Homo sapiens: one gene and its partner. The protein of the gene in region 1 purifies or fractionates together with the protein of each later gene. This does not show direct contact. Each region holds a gene or a part of one and is shown on either strand. Other genes may lie near its edges.

Region 1 (2,967 bases):
GAAAGAAAACTACAAAGCCTACCTGAAAAGACACCATCAATAGAGCTTAGTAAATACCAGGAAACACACACACACACATACACACACACACACTCACACACACACCTTCCCCAAGGTCACATGGCTGGTAAGTGGCAGGAGGTAGAATTTGAATACAGTCAGCTTCCTTAACCACCACCAAGAATAGGATGGGTGAGCTTTTTCTATAATGGGCCAGACAGAAAACATTAGAGGTTTCTAGGTCATCTGGATTCTGTTGCAACTACTCAAATCTAGCTCAAAAGCAGCCAATGGACAATATATAAACAAATGGGTGTGGCTGTGCTTCAATAAAACTTTATTTACAAAAGCAGATAGCCATCTGGATTTGAATCATGGGCCCATAGTTTGTTGACACATGATCTAGAATAACAAATCCTTGAAGATAGTCAAGGCTTTTGGGGGGAAAACTAATAACAAGCAGAGACTTGCTCTATCAGATATCAGCACATAAAGCTACAAAAATTATTTGGAATTGCATTATATTTATGTATCAATTTAGGATGACTATGTAATTTATGTAATTTAGTTTACAGAGAATATTCATTTATGATTTTGAGTCTTCCTATTCAGGAATATGGTATTTCTCTACTGTCACTCAGATCTTGAGAAACAATTTAACAGGGTGGGGGGTGGGAAGGAGCTCCAGGCCAATTTTTAGAAGAAATCCTACCTAACACCAGACATGTAAATAGAATGTCAGAGGACCAAAACCACTAACACCCTGAGATATGTGTCAATTGCGTCCATTCAGACTTTGGTCCAGTTCTGTGAGGGACAACGGCAGGGTCGACCTAAGATGGGGCGTTTTATAGGAAATGTTTCCCATGTTAAGCTGAACACCAAAAGGCTTCACCTTCTGCGATATATGAATAGATTTAAACCCTTCCCCCACACCCAAGGAGACTAGGCTGCTGTGGGCCTCAGCAGAGCAGAAGGGTAAAGAAAGACGGCCCTGAGAATCACATCCAAAAACCAGCCCTGGCAAAGCGCAGGGGCTCACACCTATCATCCCAGCACTTTGGGGGGCTGAGGCGGGTGGATCACCTGAGGTCAGGAGTTCAAGACCAGCCTGGCCAACATGGTGAAACCCGTCTCTACTAAAAATACAAAAAATTAGCCGGGCATGATGGCAGGTGCCTGTAATCCCAGCTACTCGGGAGCCTGAGGCAGGAGAATCACTTGAACCTGGGAGGCGGAGATTGCAGTGGGCCAAGATCGCACCACTGTACTCCAGCCTGGCAACAGAGCGAGACTCTGTCTCAAATAAAACAAAAACAAAAACAAAAAACAAATACGTACAGTTAAAAGACTTAAGTCACAACATACATCCATGAGCAATTTTAGATGGCAGCATTCCCAAAGCCATCCACCCCTCCCAAGCAGTGCACAATAGCCTCTTCCTGATGACTTAGGCTGCCCATTGTGACCACCGGTGACTGCAGCTTGACATCATAGTATATCCGTGAGTCAAGCGGCTGTGGGTTTTTGGCTCTTGCATCTGCTATAGTTCTGTCTCGGGTGCCATTTGCTAACTCTGTTCTCTGTGTAGCTGCTTTTGGCAGCTCCTCATCTCTCTTCTAATCCACCACTCACAGTCCTAGAGAACAGACCACAAGTTAAGACCGTCACCTACAGAATCCCAAGGGCCAAAACTGGGCAGAGGACAACTCCATCCTTCTTACAAAAGGGCTTCTCCACAAGAAGCATTTCCGTTAGACTCTAGCAGTGAGATACCCTGCTTCAAGAATTTCTCATGGAGCCAGAAGCCTTTGAAATTTGCCCTTATGATCCTCACCACCGAATCCCACTCAGCAGATTCCAGTACCACCTGGCATCGTGCAGGAGAAAGAACCCCAAGAAAGCCAAAAAGATGGCCACCTGCAAATACAACGCCTGCCACGTGGTCCCCATCAAAAATCTGGAGGAACATGAGGCTGTTTGTGTCAACAGGAGCGCTGTGGAAGAAGAGGACACCGAGAACCCTCTGAAAGTCAGTCCTCCTAGTTCAGAGCAGAACGATGACACCCAGCAGGTCTCACCCTGCCTTCCCAGCCCCGATATCTGGAATGTCGATGGCGCTAATTGCCAGCATGTGTTTGTCCTTAAGACTTTTTTTCCTCAAAAGGTTGTTTGTGAAAATGACACGAAAGAGTCAGCAAGAGAGACCAGTCCCCAGAAGATCCTCAGACCAGGACAGTAAACTGCCAGCTGAGGAAGGAGCACACGCCTCATCAATGCATGGAAGAACGTGCAATGCATCAGAATAAAAGACATGCAAAGTAAACTACCCTGGGCTACCTCTTTTTTTAACCTGGCAGATTGATAAATATCAAAAGGCTTAAAATACTCTGCTGGCAAAGGTAGGGCAAAATGGGCACTTTCATAACATTGGTGAGAATGTCAGTTGGTACAACCTCCACAGAGGGCAATTTGACAATAGCTATAAACATTATCAATGCATACAGGCTTTGATTGAGCAATTCCACTTCCAGGCTTCATTCTGTAAATATAATCACACATGTGGAAAATGAGCTAAGTACTAGCTTATTCACTGCAGCATTATTTGCAGCAGCAAAAGAGTTAGAAATGAGCCAGGTGTGTTGAATCACAGCTGTAGCCTGTTACTCTGGGAGCTGAGGCGAGAGGATCGCTTGAGTTCAGCCTGGGCAACATAGTGAGATCCTGTCTTAAGCAACAAAAAAAAAAGTCAAAAATGACCTAAATATCCATTAAAAGGGCCTGATTAAAAATAAGTTATACTGCAGCCATACAACAAAATATTATGCCGCCTTAAAAAAAGTGAGGAAGCTCTTTCTGTGCTGATATAGAAAGGTTGAGACACACTGTTGAGCTCAGAGGTCAGCAAACTGTTTCTGTAAAAGGCCAGATGGCAAATATCTTAGCCTTTGTCAGCCACACAGTCTG
Region 2 (3,831 bases), on another chromosome or scaffold:
TTTAAACCAATGCAGCACGGCTCCAGAAACTCCTCTGAATCACCTTGCTAACTTTTAGACATCACTGTTCTGGTTAACCTATTCATTTTATTTTTTAAAATATTTATTTTATTTTTAGTGGAGACAGGGTCTCACTATTTTGCCCAGGCTGGTCTCAAATTCTTGGGCTCAAGCGATCTGCCTGCCAAGGCCTCCCAAAGTACTGGAATTACAGGTGTGAGCCACGTATTCATTTGCAAGGCAGTGTATGAGGAAAAAAAGGAATGGGGAATTAGACTCCTGATTTGACATGCACAAAAAAGTTAGAATCAGTGACTTGCCCCAGATTCAAGTGTCCCAAAAGCAACGGAAATTGACTCTTTGGTAAATATATCAGCTGCTAGAGATGTTTTAAGGTGTCAGAGACTTAAATACTTTAGTTCCTATGGTTCACATGTCAATCACCCAGATAAAAGAGGATTAAGACCAAGGAAAGTAAATATACTAAAATGAGGTACCTGGCTTTGGAAATCTAGCAGAATTTAAGAAAGAGGAGAGCTGACTCTAGGATGAGTATTAGCAATGATGTCCTGGTTTGAGAAGGTCAGGGTTTGTTTAAAAAATGCACTTTTTTTTTTTTTGGAGATGGAGTCTTGCTCTGTCACCCACGCTGAAGTGCAGTGGCATGATCTTGGCTCACTGCAACCTCCACCTCCCTGGTTCAAGTGATTCTCCTGCCTCAGCCTCCCCAGTAGCTGGGACCACAGGAGTGTGCCATCATGACGGGCCAATTTTTGTATTTTTAGTAGAGACAGGGTTTCACCATATTGGCCACGCTGGTCTCAAATTCCTGACCTCAAGTGATCCACCTGCCTCGGCCTCCCTCCCAAAGTGCTGGGATTACAGGCGTGAGCCACTGCGCCCAGCCTTATTTTATTTTTTCAGTAGCAAAGCTCTGCAACCAAGACACACAAAAACAAAATAACTATTTTAATTCTGGTTGAATTTTATAATATGAAAGTCCATATAATATAGTAAAAGAGTAGTCTATTAGAAATCAGGCCAGGTGCAGCTATAATCCCAGCACTTTGGGAGGCCAAGACAGGCAGATCACTACAGGAGTTTGAGACCAGCCTGGCCAACAGGGTGAAACCCCATGTCTATTAAAAAATACAAAAATTAGCCAGGTGTGGTGGCATGTGCCTGTAGCCCCAGCTACTTGGGAGGCTGAGCACAAGAATCACTTGAACCAGGAAGGTGGAGGCTGCAGTGAGCTGAGATCGTACCACTGCACTCTAGCCTGGGTGACAGAGCAAGACTCTGTCTCGAAAAAGAAAAAGAAAACAGACAACTCAACCTTGATGGCTTCCATCTATGGAGCACTTAGTGTATGCAAGGTATTGCACCAAATATTTTAAATGTACCTCATTTATCCTTCAGGATAACCTTAAAGGTACATAATATTATTGGCTCCATTTGAAACAGAGGCTCAGAGACTATCTAGTCCAAAGTTATACAGTTGTGGAGTTAAAATTTGGATCTAAATCTGTCTCCATAGCCTATGCTCTTCTTAACCACACCCTACTATTTCCTCAGTTTAATTGTGCATAACATTGGGTTAGTCTGGAAATTCTACAAATCTGTGACAGCATTCTTCAATCACCACAGTCAGAGCCTATACCTACCTCCACATCAAAGTTGGTCATGTCGGCCTTCCACTTAAAATAATCTTGAACAGCACCCCCAAAATCTCTTGCAGCCTCATTTGAGGTAAAGCAATGTTTCTCTCCTGCCCTGTTGCATGTGACTCTAAACTTCAGCACTTGAGGCTCAGTTTCTTCTTTTGAGCTTTCATCAGTCTCATCTTTGCAAGATGCCAAATCATCACCTATTAATGTTGATACATCCTCTTTGATGGCTGGATTTTCATAATAATCTAAGATATGAGAATCTAAAGCATGGCTAGTGAACTCTTTTTTAACATTTCTCTGATCGATTTTGACTTCTTGTCCATTATTAATCTTCTCTTTACTTGAATTCTGATTTATCTTTTTGCGCTTTGCTTTTTTCTTTTTAAAACTGGCATTAATTTTCCACACTTTTAAGGGGTTTGACCATGGGAGTTTTCCAGCCAAGTCTTCAAAATCCTTTAGAACTTCTTCCTGTAAAGGACAGAGAAAGAAATTCATTCATTTCTCACCACTATAATCAAACAAATAAACCTCTACTTTGCTTATGGACAGTTGGTATCCGTGGGGGACACTGGTTCCAGGACCGCCAAAGACACCAAAACCCAAAGATGCTCAAAAGTCCCTCATATAAAATGGTATAGTGTCTACATATGACCTACACACATCCTCTCAAGAGTAACTTAAATCATCTCTATCTTACCTATGATACCTGATACAATGTAAATGCTATGGAAATAGTTGTTATACTGTATTGTTTGGGAAATAATGACAAGAAAAAAAGTCTGGGCTGGATATGGTGGCTCATGCCTGTAATCCCAGCACTTTAGGAAGCTGAAGCAAGTGGATCACTTGAACTTAGGAGTTTGAGACCAGACTGGGCAACATGGCAAAACTCTGTCTCCACAAAAAAATACAAAAATTAACTGGGCATGGTGGCACGTGCCTGTAGTCCCAGCTACTCAGGAAGCTGAGATGGGAGGACTGCTTGAGCCTGGGAGGTCAAGGCTCCAATGAGCTATGATCACGCCAATGCACTCCAGCTTAGACAACAGAGCAAGATCTTGTCTAAAAAAATAAATCTTTTACAAAAGAGAATGAACACTGACTACAATATTCTTAAGGAAAGAAAGCCTAACTCCAAATTTTATACCCAAACTATCAGCCAAATATAAAGGTGAAAGACAAACATTTCTGAACTCATGCCATTCAACAGATACAAATTATAACAAAAGGACAAATAATGTGCCTATAATCTATTTAATTATATCACTAAAATGAAAACAAGTGTAGGGATTGTGATTATAAAGCAGAAGGTAAATGTTACAAACTGGCATGTAAATGGGCATACTGATACCCTCATCTCTTACACCCAGAGGTCAAAGGATAGAAGTTAAAGCTGATAAATAAAATGTAAGTATATTTAAAAGTTTAAGGGTGAACACTAAGAAAAATAACTGAAAAATAAAGGAAAAAAGTATAAATATGCCAATTTCATCATTGCTTTTAGCAGGGATTCAAAAAATACCGTGTATATATGGTAGATAAGGTAGATAATATCAAATTGTAGTTATAAAGGTAACAGCTAGAACACACACACATAAACCTTCCAAACTATTAGAAAACACAGGCATATGAAAAAAGTAAAGACATAATGTAAAGATTTTTCAAATTAAGAAAAAACAAAAAGTATGAGCATGACAAAACTAAGACTAAACAGTTGTCATTATCAATAAGTATCAATGGGATAAACACAAAGATGACACTCAGTTTGAATATGTACAAGAATTTACATAGTGTATTTGTTGCACCACTGTAATAGCAAAAGAATGTGAAAAACCCTCATGCCCTAAAATGGGACTGGTTAAATTATTATACAGCCAAACAATGGAGTATACGCAGCCAATTCCAGCAATGATACTGCCAGGATCTCCAACATATAGGTTGAACATTCCTAATCTCAAAGTCCAAAATCCAAAACCTAAAATTTTTTTGAAGTGCCAACATGATGCCACACAGGTAGCTGAGATAGTGACACCTTTGCTTTCTGATGGTTCAGTGTACACAAACTTTGTTTCATGTATAAATTATTTTAAAAATCATATAAAATTACCGTCAAGCTATACGTATAACGTATATATGAAACAAATGAATCTTGGATTTA

What was found.
Region 2: the proteins of GTSF1L (region 1) and THUMPD3 purify together in Homo sapiens (affinity purification with mass spectrometry; one large-scale study listed by BioGRID and IntAct). This does not show direct contact.

What each region holds. Positions count from the first base shown.
Region 1 is NC_000020.11:43,725,523-43,728,489, reverse strand, and holds GTSF1L (gametocyte-specific factor 1-like), read left to right. Parts: upstream 1-1,487; 5' UTR 1,488-1,795; coding exon 1,796-2,242; 3' UTR 2,243-2,326; downstream 2,327-2,967.
Region 2 is NC_000003.12:9,369,370-9,373,200, reverse strand, and holds part of THUMPD3 (tRNA (guanine(6)-N(2))-methyltransferase THUMP3), read right to left. Parts: intron 2,142-3,831; coding exon 1,665-2,141; intron 1-1,664. UniProt on the Homo sapiens protein: Catalytic subunit of the THUMPD3-TRM112 methyltransferase complex, that specifically mediates the S-adenosyl-L-methionine-dependent N(2)-methylation of guanosine nucleotide at position 6 (m2G6) in tRNAs.